Linked DNA regions of Homo sapiens. The protein of the gene in region 1 interacts with the protein of each later gene in a pairwise test. Each region holds a gene or a part of one and is shown on either strand. Other genes may lie near its edges.

Evidence for each region.
Region 2: the proteins of HABP4 (region 1) and HMGXB4 interact in a two-hybrid assay, tested with the Homo sapiens proteins (one study listed by BioGRID).

What each region holds. Positions count from the first base shown.
Region 1 is NC_000009.12:96,444,587-96,454,319, reverse strand, and holds the start of HABP4 (intracellular hyaluronan-binding protein 4), read right to left. Parts: upstream 4,152-9,733; 5' UTR 4,041-4,151; coding exon 3,692-4,040; intron 3,132-3,691; exon of another isoform or gene 2,854-3,131; coding exon of another isoform or gene 2,835-2,853; intron 1-2,834. UniProt on the Homo sapiens protein: Ribosome-binding protein that promotes ribosome hibernation, a process during which ribosomes are stabilized in an inactive state and preserved from proteasomal degradation.
Region 2 is NC_000022.11:35,287,049-35,296,224, reverse strand, and holds the end of HMGXB4 (HMG domain-containing protein 4), read right to left. Parts: intron 8,879-9,176; coding exon 8,773-8,878; intron 7,988-8,772; coding exon 7,818-7,987; intron 3,234-7,817; coding exon 3,111-3,233; intron 2,619-3,110; coding exon 2,574-2,618; 3' UTR 418-2,573; downstream 1-417. UniProt on the Homo sapiens protein: Negatively regulates Wnt/beta-catenin signaling during development.

The DNA.
Region 1 (9,733 bases):
CAATACTTTTCCATACTTTTACCCCAGCGTAAAAAGAGTTATTTTAACATAGTTTCAGATTTCCTATTTCCAACCCATAGTTTTAAAAACATCTTTTATTATCTCCACTCAACTACAGAATTACTTATAGGTGCTTATCCCACCTTTCTGCTTCCTCCAAGTTATTTTTTAATTGCGTCAAATTTGGAATTCATCAAACTTAAAATAGGACATTTACTGTACACCATATTAAAGCCTTTTCCAACAGTATAAAACTGAAAACTGTTAAATACAATTGGCTACTTATTAGAATAATTATCAATATCAAGCAAACATTTCATTTTCCCTCCCAAACCCCCCAAAACAAAGATAATTAGAATAATGATCAGTTTTGGGCAAACATCTCGTTCTCCTTCCCAACTCTCCCAAAACAAAGATAATCAGCATCCAATTTTTTCCCCACAATTTAGTACTAAGAGATCAACACTGCCATGAATTGGGCTTGTTTTTCTGTGCTGGATCAGCAGCTCCAAGTGGAGAATGCAAGCACTGCATTTCACTAACCTCGCCAAGAAAAGGCTGGCACATGCATTCATCATCATCTAAACCAAGCCCAGGTAAAGAAACAGAATACAATAAAATTTACAGTAAGATTTTCCACAAAATAAAATTGACCTTTGTTTCAAAGAACATAATTCTGAAAGGCTAGGAAAAGCAAAACTGAAACGGCCTCTCATGACTTTAAGAATGAACTTATTGAGCAAGGCTCACCCAAGGGTTTATATACATATTGCTAGACAGATAGTCAGACATTAAAAACCTACATTTTTGGCCAGGCATCATGGCTCACGCCTGTAATCCCAGCACTTTGGGAGGCTGAGGCGGGCGGATCACCTGAGGTCAGGAGTTCAAGACCAGCCTGGACAACATGGTGAAACCCCATCTCTATTAAAAATATAAAAAATTAGGCCAGGCACAGTAGCTCACACCTGTAATCCCAGCACTTTGGGAGGCCAAGGCAAGCAGATCATGAGGTCAAGAGATCGAGACCATCCTGGCCAACATGAACATAGTGAACCCATGCCTCTACTAAAAAATATACAAAAATTAGCTGGGCATGGTGGCGCATGCCTGTAGTCCCAGCTACCCAGGAGGCTGAGGCAGGAGAATCGCTTGAACCGGGGAGGCAGAGGTTGCAGTGAGTCAAGATCCCGCCACTGCACTCTGTCTCAAAAAAAAAAAAAAAAAAAAAATTAGCCGGGCATGGTGGCAGATGCCTGTAATGCCAGCTACTAAGGAGGCTGAGGCAGGAGAATCGCTTGAACCCAGGAGGTAGAGGTTGCAGTGAACCGAGATCATGCCACTGCACTCCAGCCTGTCTCAAAAAAAAAGACTCTGTCTCAAAAAAAAAAAAAAAAAAAAAAAAAAACCCTTTTCCATAGGAAAAGCTTGTGACTTCCACATTCTTTCAGGATTAACATTTCTATGATATGTCAAACATGTTTTATTTTTGTCTACACTAAGCATTCACTTACAACATTCTAACTAGATAAAAAATTTTGAATGTTAGAAAAGTACAGTGCTTCTTATCAACTAGGGTTACAAAACCTTGAGAGAATAGCTCCTTGACACCCATTATAGATAAATTTAGTACAGTAACTACATAAATGGAAATTAATGAGCTGTTTGCTCCTGAAATAACACATACTTGAAAAAGAACTTGAATGATAAAATTTCCGTTCTAACTACAAAATCAACTAAATACCTTTAGTTGATTTCAAAAGCCAGATCACTTAGACCTAACAACTGACAGAAAAAAAAAGTTACGAGTGTACTACATGACAACATCAAGTGCAGGAAACAGGTTGCAACCCAGTTTATATCATTTAAGTTTAGAAAGAAAAGAAATAGCTCTGTGCATTTATGTATATAAATGCAAAGTGTTAGTAGGAAAAATAAGAGGATTTTCACTTAACCTCATACATTTTGGAATTGCTTAAAATTCTTAACACAAAAATGCATGACAATTTTAAAAAGGCTAAAAATCAATGTATTAACAGCACTAACTCGTCTCACGTTTTTCTGAAGCACAGAATTTTTTTTTTTTTTTTTTTGTGACGGAGTCTCGCTCTTTCTCCCAGACTGGAGTACAGTGGCTCGATCTCGGCTCACTGCAAGCTCCGCCTCCTGGGTTCACGCCATTCTCCTGCCTCAGCCTCCCGAGTAGCTGGACCTACAGGTGCCCGCCACCACGCCCGACTAATTTTTTGTATTTGTAATAGAGACGGGATTTCACCGTGTTAGCCAGGATGGTCTCGATCTCCTAACCTCGTGATCCGCCCGCCTCGGACTCCCAAACTGCTGGGATTACAGGCGTGAGCCACCACACCCGGCATTTTCATTTGTTAAAAAATAAAGGGTGAAGAAAAGCTTAGCCTTCCTCAATTCCTTTATTATATTGATGTAAATAAGTTTAAGAGAAAAAGATAAAAAACAGGATATAAAATGCACAATGTATCTCCAGTCTCACTGTTTAGATAGGCTCAGAAATTTACTGGCCTACCAAAGTGTCGTGAGATAGTAAATAACATTTTTTTAAAAATCATTTTCAACATCTTTATTGTAGTGACTTGATTCTCAAGTGATGACTCTGGATTTAGCTTTTCACAAATAAAGGTAAACATTACCCAGCTGCACATCAAAGCCCTAATACTTAAACCTGAGACGTTTCCTCAGGGCTGCGATGCACAATTTTTATCAAGCAAGGAACAAACCAATAAAGCCAAGTTGAACACACTGGCAAACGTCGGCAGGAATGGTCAACCTACACATCTTAATCCTAACACTCTGCAAACCTTGGGACCGCTGCCTCATTTCAAGAAAACAGGAAACACAGGTGGAGTGTTGCTGGCTCTGCCACTGACGCAGTTCGGTGAGAGAATGAACTCTGAAGCACCCTCCCCGTCCACAGGCAGCAGGACACCACGCTGCGCACCGGTTTTTCTTGCTAAATAGGGAGTGGGGAACTCCGAATATTCTTGCTGGAAAGGTTAAAAACGCTTTTCTTAAAGCAGCCTTGAGCTATTTATAAGTTGCACATCCCATCAACACCACACGAAGTACTGAAATACGATGCCGGCTGCCTCCTGGAAGCTACCGGACGGAGAAGGGGCGAAGGCGCCAGGCCGGACCGCGCCGGGGACCCCCGCCCGGGCCCCGACGTCACAGGCCGCCCCGCGGTCGCCCAGGCCTCCGGCATCACAGAGGCCCCCAGCCCCGGGACCAGGCGCCCTCCTCCTCCCCACCGCGCTCTCGGGTGGCTCCGACCTCAATCTTGCAGAGGCTGGGCTGGAAGATGAAGGTCCCCGCCAGGTCTGGATGTGGGAGCCCCGGGGTAGCGACCTCAGCCGTTCGCCCCCACACGCCACCCAGACAACCTCCCTCAACTTCGTCCAACTTGCCGTAGAGCCTCAGTGCCAGGGTTCGAGGGCCCTATCCCACCCCAAGCCAGCGTTTCCCCCGGAGCCCCGCACGAGGCTGGCGAGAGCTGGAAGGGGTGTGACCCCTGCCCCTCTCCTCCTACCTTCGGCGGCCACCAGGACCCTCAACTCTCCCTACTGTTCCCGGGCCCCTCCTCCTGAAACCGGCCCCCGGGACCCCAGTCTCACAGCGGGCCGAGCCGTGGTCCGCTAACCCCGCTGTCCCCGCGTACCCGGCGCCTGCAGGCCGCCCCCGGGGCTATCGGGCCGCTGAGCGACGGGCGCCGGGAGGCTCTTGCGCTCCTTCTGCGACTCCCTCCGGCCGCCCGCGCCGGCTCTGTGGCCCGAGGCCCCGGCTGGGCTCCTGCCGCCGCGGGGACCGGCCCCGGCCGCCGCCGCCGCCTCGTCGCGCCTCTTGCGCTGCAGCTGCTGCTGGCGCCGGCGCTCGGCCTCGCGCAGGATGTCGAACGGGTCCGACTCGTCGTCCAGCAGCTGATGGAAGCGGTTGGCCACCACGCAGCCGAAACTCTCCTGCATCGCGGCGCCAGCGGCAGCCACGGGACTCCCCAGAGCGCCCTTCATGCCGCCGCGACCACTGCGGGCCCGGGAGGGCAGCCCACGCGAGCGCGTCTCAGCGAAGCCGGCGGCCAGGACCCATGCCGCCCGCTCCGCCGCCACCGCCCTCCGGGCCCTACCCTGTCCGGCCCCTACCGGCGCCCGCCCCCGCGGCGCCGCCGCCGTCCGCCCCGCTGCGCCAGACAGCCAGTCAGCGCGCGCGGGTGCGCCCCCTTTCCGACACGGCGCGCCTGGAGACCCAATCACCGACCGGCTGCTGTCACGTCACGCGACCTCTGGGCCCCGCCCCGTTCGCTCAGCAGGGAGGGGCGGGGCCCAGGGGCGGAGCTACTGGCTGGTCCAGGCGGCGCCGACGAAGCGGTGGGGTCTCGGCTGTGTGTGCTTTCTCCCGGGACTGCGACCGTATTTGCTATGGGCCACTCTGCTTTGAAGCTTATGTATACATTTAGCCGTGCAACAGCTACATATTGCGCACTTACCGTGTGCCAGGCATTATGTTGTAGGAAATACTAGCTCCGTGTTGTCACAGATCTGAGTCTGTAGATGGAGAAAAAGTGCCCTGAAGGACAGGCGCAGAGCTCTCTACGGGCTGCAGCAAAGGGATCTGACCTAATTGGGAAATGACAGTTAAGCCGAGGGAGAGGGGTGACAAGGGGTTGGAGGAGGAACAGCAAGTGCAGCAGTCTTGAGGTGGGATGTGCACAGCCTATTCAAGCTCAAAGTGGTCTCTATTCTAAGAGCAGTGGGAAGCAAGTTTTGAGCATGAGCAGATTTGGGTTTGAAAAGGCCACCCTACCTGCACTGTGAACTAATAGTTTGGAGGGAAATACAAATGGATGCTGGGAAGCCAAACATGATTGTTGCAAAGCTCCAGGGAAGAGTTGATAGTGACTGGGATTAGGATGGTGGCGGTGGAGGCGAAGAGAGTAGATGGATTCAAAGACTTGGTGATGCGCTAGAGGTGGTGATGAGGGAGAAGAAGATACGGTGACTCTTATTTTCCTGGCTCCAGCATCTGAATGATAGTATTAGTTACCACTGGAAGACACTACTTTAACGGGAATCATTAATTCAGTCTGGGACACGTTGAGGTTTGGATATTTGTTTTCTTTTGAGATATTCAGTTGAGGCCTGGAGCTTAGAGAACGCCGGACTGGACTTCCTCCAGGAAATCTTTGCATAGGCAGCGGTGGAGACACGCTTGGCTGCCTATCCTACAGCCGTTCTTTCCCTCTTACATTTTTCCAGAGCCTGTATTTTGTTCAGGCATCATATTCCCCAGGGGAAGAGGGCCCCTTCCAGCCTCAAACTTGATTAATCATACATTATTCATTGCACCTGATTCCAATTCCTTGCCAGTAATTGGCTTAGGAATAGGCTGTGGGGCAAATCGGGCAGAACAGATCTGAGAAGTATTCTGGGAAAGTTTTTCTTGCACCTAACAAGGGATTGAGAAGGGATCTCCCCCCCTTCTGTTCCCTGGTCTTTGTTCCATGAGAAGACATGATGCCTCGGGTGGCTGTTCCTTAGCGTGGCCATGAGGATGGCAGAGCAGGATAGAGAAAGGCTAGATCCTTGATGAGGTTGAGCTGCCGACTGGACCCACTTGGGAACCTCCCTACTTGAGGCTTATGATGTAAGGTGACAGATGTGATTGCGCTTAGTTGTGTTTGCTTGTTTCATCCGAAAGCATCCAGTTAGAGCATCTTGCCAGGTGCTCTGTGACCAGCTTTTACTTTCCTTAATAGCAAAGGAATTCCTAATCCTAAATGCTGTAAAGTCTGTGTGTTACTCACTTATTGAATTTTGTGTTATTCCCAAGGAGGACAGGGATGATGCCTGTCTTATTCACTGCAGTATGTATTCCCAGTGCTTGGCGTTCTAAGCAGCTATAGAGTAGGTTTTCAGTAAATATTTGTTGAATGATTGAAGAATTTAAGATATTTGGTCATCTCCTTTTGAGTGAGCAAAGATTAATGCCTACGCTTTCTACCCAAAAGAATTAAAAGCAAGTGTTCAAACCAAAACTTGTACATGAGTATTCATAGCAGCACTATTCACAATAGCCAAAAGACAGAAACAAATAATATACATGTCACCCGATGAATGGATAAATAAAATGTGGTACAAAAAATATTATTTGGTCAAAAAGGAAGTATTGATACTTGTTACAACAGGGATGAAACTTGAAAACATTGTGCTAAGTGAAAGACGGACAAAAAGGGCCACACGTTGTATGATTCCATTTATATGAAATGTCCAGAATCTATAGAGACAGAAAGCAGATTGGTGGTCACCAGGTGTGGGGGTTGGGAGTGTTGGAAAGTAACTGCTTAATGGGCATGGGAGTTTCCTGTGGGGTGATGAAATGTTCTGGAACGAGATAGTGGAGATGGTTGCACAAAATTGTAAATTTAGTAAATGTCACTGAGTTGTACACTTTAAAATTGTAAAAATAGTAAATTTTGTGTAAAATTTAGTAAAAATAGTAAATTTTTTGTAAAAATAGTAAATTTATCTTAATGAACCAGAGTAAAAATAGTAAATTTATCTCAATGAACCAGAATCACTACATGCAACAGAGACCACACTTTGAGAAGCACTGCTTCAAGCTAAAGTTATCTTTGGTATCTTTAAACTGCTCATCACCAAACCACAACACCAAGGAATCATGATCATGTGAGAGAAGGGCCTGTCGTCTTCCCACTGGGCATCTGGAGTTAGCCTGCTCCCCTGTTTTCTTCTTATCTTCCTTACAGCATAACCAGCCACTGTAAGTTCTTAAAGCATGCCCTGTGAGCACTGCCGCCTCATTTCCAAGTCACAAATGCCCCAAATGGTTGTAAGAGAACCAACTCTCGTTGCTTCAGGATTCAGAACATCTTTAGAACTGAAATAGAGATGAGTAATCCTTACCTGGTATTAGATGGCCACAAGTTTCTTTTTTTTCTTTTTTTTCTTTGTGTGTGTGTGTGTGTGTGTGTGTGTGTGTGTGTGTGTGTGTGTGTTTGGCAGAGACAGGGTTTCACCACGTTGGTCAGGCTGCTCTCAAACTCAAGTGATCTGTCCACCTCAGCCTCCCAGAGTGCTGGGATTACAGGTGTGAGCCACCGTGCCCGGCCATGGCCATGAGTTTCTTACGGGGCTATTGACTACTGCACAATTTACTGAGAGTAAGGTTAAGCACCCTCATATTTTTTACTGATTGTTTTTTCTTCTAGGAGATTGCATCCTTAAATGCATTCCTAAAATACAACTCTACCACATTAGCATAAGTTATTCACACATTGTGTTTAATGTGGTCAGTTTAATAGACTGATCTTTTTCATAATCTGATATATGAAAACAGCTTTTAGTAATCATAATACCAAACAATAACACACATCTTATAGCATGGAAAAACAAAGCACATCAAAAATGCTGTGAAGTGTGGATGCTGAATAATACTACCAGCCCTTCCATGATTATTATATATATTCCAGTGGTTATTTATTACCACCAATGGAAATGCAGTGAAACTTAACTGTATACAAGATGTAAATTACCTTGAATTACTTAATAGAGGAGTCCCATTAGGAATAATAAAATACACTAACATCTTCCAGATTGACTTGGAATTCACAGAACCATTAATTGAGAGTTTAGACACATGTAGCTTCATTACTTTCAATTACATGCAGGGAGCAACACCTGGGTGAGAGCCAAGGAGGAGAGGCCAGGTCAGGCTGGCGAGGATGTGAGTTCTTGTTAATTACCAAAGCACTGCATTCAATCTGCTCTGTTTTGCCGCTGAATTCCTGCTCTCTCTCTCCTTACCTTTTTCTTGTCCCTAAAGTTAGGATGATTATAACCTGTCTTGCATTCTTCATATAGTTGAATGGAAGACAAGACCAAAGAAGTCAATTGAAAAAGGTAAAAATAAATCTCACTATTTTATAATTGTTTCTACTTGCATAATATATGCAAAAACAAAAGTATTTTTCCTAACTCTAAGAGGATCTGATCTTTTATGCCAGTTGAGTCAATTATGACAGGATCAATGAAGTTACATAATAGTTCCTGGTTTCACTATTCTAAGGGTGATAAGTGAGTTCAAATTCAGTTTCCCACAACAAATGAATAAAGCAAGTAGCAAGTACATAGGCTCAAAGTCAGGAGTTGTAGAACCATAAACCATTAGTTAACAATCAGGATGCACCAGAAGAACTTCTAGCAAGCGGAAATCCATTCATGATGATCAGATACACAATGTTTAAATCATGAAATAATTTCCCCAACCTGCTAATAATATTTGTATTCTTGGTGTCATTGAGGGTCTTTCCAACTTGCCTTCTTATGACAAAAGGTTACTGGATAGCTTAGTGCTTTGTATACTCAAAGCAATTGTGCCAATAGAAATTTTTATTCTCTCCCATTCCTACTATTAAAAGTTTGATCTCTAGTTGTAACTTTAATCAAGGCCAAATAAATAATTGGGGATTTAGAACTTTTTATTTCCTCATTTATTCTAGATCCTTCAAGTTGTGAGCAACAGAAAACCCATCTGGAATAAGTAAAACCAAGGACTTTGTTGGCTCAATAAAAAAAAAAAAAATCTACCAGGAACAGTGATTCGCTCCAGAAATTCCAGACCAGCCTGGAACTCCTGAGCTCAGGCAATTTGCTTGCCTCAGCTTCCCAAAGAGTTGGGATTACAGCCATGATCCACCATGCCTGGCCAACTTGACTTTATTTATTCATTTATTGAGATGGAGTCTCACTCTATTGCCACAGCTGGAGTTCAGTGGCGCAATCTTGGCTCACTTTAACCTCCACCTCCCAGGTTCAAGTGATTCTCCTGCCTCAGCCTCCCCAGTAGCTGGGATTACAGGTGTGCACCACCACATCCAGCTAATTTTTGTATTTTTAGTAGAGACAGGGTTTCACCATGTTGGTCAGGCTGGTCTCGAACTCCTGACCTCAGGTGATCCACCTGCCTCAGCCTCCCAAAGTGCTGAGATTACAGGCGTGAGCCACCATGCCTGGCCGACTTGACTTTAGTGCATGCACAGAAGTCCCAGAATTGAATCACGGGCCTATGTCTTGGGTCACACATACACCATTGAACCCAGTTGCTGTACTGAAGATCATTTAATTCTCTCATCATCCAGGCTTGATTACCAGCCCAAGCTGGAGTCTGATTGAAGTCATCACCCCCTGAACCACTGGAACTGAGAGTTGATGGGGTGGTTCCCTGAGGAAAATAAGGTTTCTAAACCAGCAGGTAGGAATAGATGCTGGGCAGGTAGCAAACAGAATTCCTTGCATGTGATGATGAGCATGAATGTGGTATTGCTGTGCCTCTTGTCACACTGGATTATTGGCCTGCATTATAGTTCTTTGTCCTTATTTCTCCTCCCTAAGGTTAGAAATAGTGTCTAATTCATTTCTGAATCCCTTCCTTCCCTTCTCTCTGGTTTCATCTTCAGTGCCTTTTATTCAGGAAATATTTGTTGTTTGGTGAATGAATTTCTTGTTTATATACATGTACTTATGACAAGTAATTTTACATGTGTTAAAAATAAAAATGTGGCTGAGTGTGGTGGCCACATTTTTACTTTAATCTCAGCACTCTCGGAGCCCAAGGCATGAGGATCACATGAGCCCAGGAGTTTAAGACCAGCCTGGGTAACACCATGAGACCCCATCTCTACAAAAAA
Region 2 (9,176 bases), on another chromosome or scaffold:
ATAAAGATTAAGTAACTTATCAACAGCATTACTGTAATGCTAACAGGACAGTACTGAAACATATCATTTAGCACATGATTCAGATGCAACCCTTATATAAGATTAATCAACATTTTCTTGATTTAGGCCAACACCATAATGCACATAGTTTCATTTGCCAATAAATGGAGGTGGAATTATCAGATTCACTAAATTTGCAATTTGCAAAAGAGAAAATGAGAACCTCTACAATGTAAAAGTTAATAGAAGCAGAGTAAGGAGTATATTAAGAAAATGGCTAAGATTAGAAATTTAATCTCCATTGTGGGTTGATTTTTTTCTTAAGAAAATTATGGTAGAATAGAGTGAAAAACAGGTTTTATAATTTCATAGCAACTATGATGATCATGATTAGGGAAAAGACAGCTGAGACTGGACTACAAATATTAAAAATGTGATTTTTAATAATATAAGTACAAAATTTTATTTCTTTATACAACTGTAATGGGATTTGGATCAAACCACTAGAATTTATTTAAAAAACAAAATAAAACAATGATATAAAAACTGCAAGAAGGTCTGAATCCAAAGTTTTTCCTCTAATAGTACCAAATACCACAAGGTACAGATTATTATACAAATGTGTACAAATTTTAAATACAAATACAATAGGGCTGGGTTTCAAAGGAAAACAAACAAAAAGCAGGTCCTCATCAGGATTTCATTAATGTATATAAATGACAATGCTAGGATTAATGTCTTCCTATACTATCCATGTCTTCCCCGCCCCTCCTAGATACCCTGTGTCAAACAGGAAACTTCCACAGATACAGAAGAGGCATGGTACAATGTTCTAACACATGAAATCAAGTTAAGATTTCTGTTCCTCTTGATTTTGGTTCTCAAACAATCCTGTTTCTCTGTATTCCCAATTAAATCTTAAAACTGCTCTGAGCTGAGAAAGGGATTCAGCAGCCAGACTACCTTTAAGCAACATAGCCCTGTGACAACACTGGTGGGGAGAAGGGAAGAAATTAAATAGGATGCAGATGGGCTACACTGTCCCCAAAGATTTACTTTGATGCTGTAGTGCTCTGTCAGGGCCAGGAGAAGAAAGCACAGTTAACTCAGAGCTTGGTGTTGGCAGAGAATCTCATACCAAATTTAAAAACCATCCTGAAGTGCTCAACTGTCTTCTTTCCAACTGGGAAACAAACGTCTGGTTCTCTGGAAATAAGGGCAGCTGGGGATGGTAACATTCCTCTTTATTTTACTTTCTAGACATTATTGAAGCCCATGAAGTTCTTTATAAAGAATTAGAATCCTAACACAATGATTCATTTTTGAGGTAAAATACCTTAAAATGTAGATGATTCAGAGTTTTTGGAACAGACCAGGAGGAAGGAAGGAAAGAGGGAAGGAAACAGGGAAGGAAGGAAGGAAAGAAGGGAGGGCGGAAGGGAGAAATGACAAATCTGTATCTTCCACATGCTGTTGCTGGTGGAGGCTTCTGTTATTAAATTATATATACAGAAATTTACAGGATAAATTAAAATCTAAGAGATTTTAAAGAGTTAAATACACATAATTAAAATACACATTCACACACACATAAATAAACCTACAAGAGAGTGAGTTTTGTTTTGTTTTTGCAATTCACTTACATGTGGAATGCAGAACACTGTGTATCTGCCCACCAGGGGAACTGATAAGATGAACCCAAAAATCATGCTGGGCAAAGTTTATCCATAACCACCGAGCAACTAAGCAGCACGGCTTGTGAGGACTTGGTGGCTAACTTCATGCTGCCAGTGAAAGACACCAGCACTTAATTCTGCCGACTAAAGATTCTGGGTTAGCTCAGAATGTATGGAGGTCCAACTGGTGGCATTGACAGCTTCACCCCCCAAGGTGTTTTTTGCTGCCAGGGCTCACAGAACTCCTTGGCCTCTGTTGAGGCCACCAATGGTACCAATGATTACAATAAATTTTGAGACACAGACACCTATACAGTAGGAATTGGAATGAACCCTCTACTCAATTCACCTAAGCCACTTCCATAACTATAAAGGGAACAAATTTTATCACCTCCCACCTAGGTCACTTCAAATTGAAAGGCTTTGAATTTTCAGTCAACTGGCATCTTCCCGTTATCTTTCCTATTACATTTCAGACTAAGACAGGTAAGGCAAATGGTCAGTGATGGGTCTGGAGGTCCAACTGAGCTTGGAAAATAATCACATTTTAGCTGTCCATAAAGAGATGCGCTTGGCACCCAGAACAAGCCCCCAGCCCCCAAGTTACATTGATTTTTAAGGCAGATTTATCCACCACAGGAGAAAAAAGAATCCCAAGCCTGTATTCATGCCAAAATTTCCTCTTGGCTAAACCTTTGCCATTTCATAAAATTATTAAAAGCAAAGTAGTTACAGTCTATGTATATATTGTACATTATATATATATGTATATATGTATGTATAGATATAAAAATTTAAAACCTACAGCCAGAGGCCACTGAAGGAATCTGCAACAGTCATATATACACAAACCAGCAATGGTGTAGGATAAGGTTTCTGTCCCAGGATTCTTTGCTGTCACAGTCCCGGCATGATGTAAGCAATGTTGTCTAATGTGTTTGACTGCAAAACAAAGAAAAATGTTCAACTGAAGAGTACTGTACCTTGGTTTCCTGAGAGATGTTTCTTTGTTCAAGGAGAGAGATAAGAAAAATCAAATGGAGTTAGAAAAACAGGTGAGAATGAAGACGGCATCCTGCTGTTTGTTATGCTAGGAACTTTTCTGCTGACTTCTCCCATTAATCCTCGTAAAAAAGAGGGAAACAATTCCTGTACTGTCTTTGGGTGCAGAATAGCAAACAGGAAACACAGGAATTGTAGTACCTCAAGGGCTAGAATGCTGCTTTCTTAAGTACTGTTTTGGTAAATGGCTTGTTTTCTAGTTTCAGTGAAAGTACAGCATGCATTTGATAATATAGCATCATGTTCCATGGGCCAACAGATGAAGGAAGCACTGTGTGTCACAAAGCCTTATGTGTGTCTGACAGTGCTCATTAAGGCAGGGCATCTCTGACGCCCAATGGATCTGACTCTAAAAATCCAGGGAAAACTCACCAAGACCTGTTTGGGACAGCCATTCAATTCAGGTAGTTGTGTGGTGAGACATGCCAAGGGGCCAAGGGCACAGATAATGGAATCCAGAAGCACTGACAAACTGCCAGACACAGCCACCATACCCTGAAAAGGAGAGGAGGTTGTTGCTTGAGTCACACTCCTGATGCTGTGTTCCGGCTGACTTCCTCACACAGTACTTTAAATCCTAGGCAGTTCTACTCTTATAATTTGAAACTTTACAGCAGAAATGGAAAGTTTACTTTGATAACTCTGTAAGTTGTTTAGAAAGAAAACTTTTACAGCACATTCCCATGTTCCCTTTCCGTAATCCTAGCCCATCTTCTTACCTTCTGAGTGACCTTGGGGAGTTCACATCCTTAACTTCTGTCTCCTTAACAGGAACAGTAAAAAATGCTTTACCTACTCTGGAGAGCTGTTGGTAAGATTTGTGATTATGTATGCAAAGTATATCTGTTATAAACTCGACAAATATAGCTCAGATGTGATTACTATGAGAATCCTACAACCCTGCATGTATGTAGCTTTTGATAGCTGATTATACAATTTTTCTAGGTTGAGTTGTTCACTCTCAAAGTGAATTTGGTTCAAATTTTAACATTTTATGTAATTCATATTGTCTATTTGTGATTCAAAGAGATAAGAAAGACTGTTGCTGCTGCCGAGTTCTTGTATAATCTGCTTTAACTAGAAGCAGTGTGAGAATATGTCATATTGGGAAGCAACACAGCACAGTCCTTAAGAAAATGAGCTCCGGATTCAAGACTGCCCGGGTCCAGATCCTGGCTCCACTACTCACTGTTTTGTACCTAGGCAAGTTGCTTACTATGCTGTGCCTGTAAGATACTAACAGCATCTGCAGCAGATGGGATTGAGATAATAGATATAATATACTTGGGATGGTGCTTAATACATGGTTAAGTACTCAAAAAATATCAGTAATTATGAATATTACTACCAACATCTTGATCTTCAAAACTGCATTTCTGGCTGTCTTTTGGGTCTCTCCTTTTGGATATTTCTCCATCTCAACTTCCTGTAAGGAAGAATAACCTTCCCATGCAAATCTAGCCCTCCTTTGAGCATCCATTTCTCTGCCAAAGTCACCACCATTCACATAACTGCCCAGTCTCAAGGCCTAGCCATCACTGACTCTTCCTTTCCCTCATCCTCCTTGTCAACATCTCCCCCCTATACTTTCTGAGGGCAGCAGTACAGTAAGAGGTTAAGAACCCGGACCTTGAGGTCACATTCCAAATTCAAGTCTCTATTTTACCACTTAGGGGCTAAACTCTAGAGAAAGTGACTTCACCTCTTTAAGTCTGTTTATTCTTCTGTAAAATGGGGGGAACAAATTCTGCCTCACAAAGCTGCAGTGTGAATTAAATGATATAATTCATATTAAGCACTCTGAACCAAAGCTGGGTGAGTGAGCCTTCAATAAAACATTAGTATACAGGGAAGATAATAGCTAAAACCCCAAAAATGTCAGTAATTAGTAATATTGTTCCATTTCCTTTGCCCTATATTTATTTATAGCTAATTTATCTTTGTCACATCTAGACTAGGATTATTGTTTTAACTTCTCCCCAATTCTGGTCTCTTTTCACTTCCAATCTAAAATAAAAGATATTCTCAGAGAAAAGTAAATGAGAGCTCTGATCTCATCCCTTTCCACTGTAAAAACCCCTGTAGTTCCCCAACAGTGAAGTATACACACTTCAGAATGTCTATGAAGTCCCTCTGCAATTTGGGTTCTAGCTTTAACTTTCTTAAGATACACACACACCACACGCCACACACACGCACAATTTTTATTTTTATTTTTTTTGAGACAGGGTCTCACTCTGTTGCCCAGGCTGGATGGAGTGCAGTGGTGTGATCTCGGCTCACTGCAACCTCCACCTCCCGGTTCAAGCGATTCTCCTGCCTTAGCCCCACAAGTAGCTAGGATTACAGGTGTGCACCACCACAACTGGCTAATTTTTGTATTTTTAGTAGAGATGGGGTTTTGCCATGTTGGCCAGGCTGGTCTCGAACTGCTAGCCTCAGGTGATCCTCCCACTTTGGCTCCCAGAGTCCTGGGATTACAGGAACAAGCAACAGTGCTCGGCCTCTAGCCTTAATTTTCTAACTTATGCATTGTATGTTCCAGTTTTACTGCTAAAATGATGAACATTAATTTACTACTGAACATATTATTTTGATAATTATATGTCCATTACGATGTACATTAAAAAAATAGAATATAACCCTTGAGATGTCATGAATGTCACTGTAAAAGCACAGACAAGTTTATTTAAATAAAATTATAAAGTAAGTAAAAGTATTAAGTGGTATGTGGAAATTATAAAATTGCAGAGATCTATGCAAATGATTAAATTCGGGCCAAAAGTGGATTAGAGGGAGAATGGGGAATAACTGCCAATGGGTACAGGGTTTCTTTTTTTTTTTTTTTTTTTTTTTGAGGCGGAGTCTCGCTCCGTCGCCCAGGCTGGAGTGCAGTGGCGCAATCTCGGCTCACTGCAAGCTCCGCCTCCTGGGTTCACGCCATTCTCCTGCCTCAGCCTCTCACAGGCGCCCGCCACCACGCCCAGCTAATTTTTTGTATTTTTAGTAGAGATGGGGTTTCACCACGTTTGCCAGGATGGTCTCGATCTCCTGACCTCATGATCTGCCTGCCTCGGCCTCCCAAAGTGCTGGGATTACAGGCGTGAGCCACCGCGCCTGGCTGGTACAGGGTTTCTTTTAGGGGTAACAATATGTTTTGGAATGAAATAGTAGTGATTCACAATTCTGTGAATATATTAAAAATCACTAAATTCTGCACTTTAAAAGGGTGAACTTTGTACTTACTAAACTAAATGGAAATATCTGGGAAAATTCAGAATACGCTTAAAACAAACTGTTTTTACTTCTAACTTCTTACGAAACGTAAGAATGATTAAATCTGAAAAATAAGTAAGGTCATAGAATACTTCTTCTGGAAATATCTATATCCATTCAGATATCGAGCCTATATGAAGGTGCTGAAGTTCTTTTGACTACTGCTAAAATTTTTAGAAACTAGCCAAAGAATTTAGATATAGCTTCAGCTCTTGTGGCCTTTGGCATTTTATTTGTTGAATAATTCAATTTCCACATTGAAGCAAGTGATTAGTTTTACATTCCTACACTAATTTCTTAGCTTAAAAATGGCTTTAGTAGCTTAGACTGACTTCTTTGCTGAAATGTCTTACTAGAACTTGGTGGAAAGCGGAACTACTATACTAATGAGTTAGCTAAGGGGACAATATTGTTAGAAATTGAATATGGTAATAGAAATGAAACACGACAGCTGTGCAGGTTAAGTGATTTTTGAAATTGAAGCTTAAAAGGACAAAAATCTCCCCAGGGCATATAGCACTGTATAATTTAAGTGCAGAGTAATGGAGAGCTGGGAACCTTAACTTCTCCATTTGTTACCTATTTTCAAAACAGAGGAACTCTTAATCTCCTATACAATTGAATATTCAAGACTTTGCTGGAAATGCAGAGAAAAATTCAAAGTCTCTTAGAAGGAGACAGAAGTAATCAAAACTGCTATGGAATTTGTACTCATCCTTTTTCTTGCCTTTTTGTTTTTGTTTTTTTAAAAAAGATAGGGTCTTGCTCTGTCACCCAGGCTGGAGGGCAGTGCAGCAATCATAGCTTACTGCAGCCTTTGAGCTCCTGGGCTCAAGCAATCCATCTGCCTCAGCCTTCCGAGTAGCTGGGACTACAGGTGTGCACCACCATGCCTGGCTAATTTTTTAATTTTTTGTAGAAATGGGGTCTCGCTATGTTGCCCAGGCTGCTCTCCAACTCCTGGCCTCAAGCGATCCTCCTGCCTTGGTCTCCCAAATTGCTGGGATTACAGACATGGGCCACCGTGCCCAGCCACCACTGCGTTTTTCTTTCTTTCTTTCTTTCTTTTTTGTGATGGAGTCTTGCTCTATCGCCCAGGCTGGAGTACAGTAGCGCAATCTTGACTCACTGCAACCTCTGCCTCCCAGGTTCAAGTGATTCTCTTGCCTCAGCCTCCCGAGTAGCTGGGACCACAGGTGCATGCCACCACACCTGGCTAATTTTTGTATTTTTAGTAGAGACAGGGTTTCACCATATTGGCCAGGCTGGTCTTGAACTCCTGACCTCGTGATCCGCCTGCCTCAGCCTCCCAAAGTGCTGGGATTACAGGCATAAGCCACCACGCCCGGCCCCATTTTTATTTCTTTTAAATTTTTTGAATATATGTATTTTTTGAGATGGAGTCTCACTGTGTTGACCAGGCTAGTCTCGAACTCTTGGCCTTAAGCGATTCTCCCAGGTGGGCCTCCCAAATTAGCATTACAGGCGTGAGCCACTGCGCCCAGCCTCCACTGCATTTTAAAAAAATAAAAATAAGTTACAGGGTACTCCAATTTCTTTTTGTGCCATTGTTTCAATAGGATATCATTAGTGAAACTTTGAGAGCTAACAGGTAGACTGAATATCTCTATAGATATTTCTGTTATTATCATTATATCTTCTATGTTACGCCATCCTGAGAACCTGGCATAATTTAGCATAAAGTAGATGCTCAATACATGTATGTAAAATGAGTGAATGAATCAAAATTATATGGGAAACTATATGGGAAACTGTAGTCATGCTGCTGATAGTTGTATTCACCTCAGTTTCCTGCAGACGGTGTCCAATGAGGCTTAGGGACTCTCCCAACAGCTGAAGATGAGCAGCAACATCAATGGGCTCTGTCTCAGGGGCTTTGGCTGGTGAGGCTGGTAACAGCATGGTGGTGGGTGGGGACTTCTTCTGGGGTGACAGTACTCCTACAGAAGAGGCTGAGAACAGAGCAATGAGGCAGACAGGTAAAACTTGCCTACAGCCTTGAACAACACAAAGTTGTTCTTCCTGATTTTCCCTTTTTATGAATTATACCAGGCATTAGCAAAACTGTGGCCTGTGGGCTAAATTCAGTCTATGGTCTCTTGTTTTTTATGGCCTGTGAGTTAGGAATAGTTTTACATTCTTAAAGGGCTATAGAAAAACAAAGAATATGTGACAGAGAATGCGAGAATGCATACGGCACACAAGGCCTATAATATTTACTCTCTGGACCTTTTTTTTTTTGAGATGGAGTTTTGCTCTTGTTGCCCAGGCTGGAGTGCCATGGCACGATCTCGGCTCACCGCAACCTCCACCTCCCGGGTTCAAGCAATTCTCCTGCCTCAGCCTCTCTGGTAGCTGGGATTACAGGTATGCGCCACCACGCCCGGCTAATTTTGTATTTTCAGTAGAGACGGGGTTTCTCCATGTTGGTTAGGCTGGTGTCGAACTCCTGACCTCAGGTGATCCGCCCACCTTGGCCTCCCAAAGTGCTAGGATTACAGGCATGAGCCACTGCGCCTGGTCTACTCTCTGGACCTTTAAAGAAAAAGTTTGCTGACTTCTGATTTGCATTTTCTAAATTTGAACATCTCTTTTTGGTAGCTTGTAACATTCCCAGGTAATAATACCTGGGAATCAAGGTCCACTTCTAATACTGCAAGCTTTTTTCCCAGTTTCTTAGCAAGGAAGCAAAATTCACATGCTTTAGAGAAAAGCAGGGGCGGGATGTGGTCACTACCTTTGACTTTCATGGAACCTTCTGAGCTGGATGCTTTCCTTTTCACAGTTGTGGCTTCTGCTTTGTTCTGTTTGTGCTGCAGATACTGAGCTTTTTGCTTCCAAATCTGCAATCACATCAGTGAACATTAAATTAAATTAAGAAGGACAAAATGTAAAAGGAAAAGCAGTCATGAAAGAACAAAATGGAGAAAAGAAAGGCAATAGTAAGAGGCGGGCAGACAGAGGGTTAATGCTAACTTTTAAGCTGGGGGTCACCGAACTGACTTCAGACAGCTGACTACATTAATATCTTAGTAAAGGACTATAAACATTCCTCAATGCTAATGGTCAAATCTCGGCACTGATTTTTAGATCACTCTAAGTTGAAATGTAAAATCACAGATTAAACCTCTGGCTCAATAT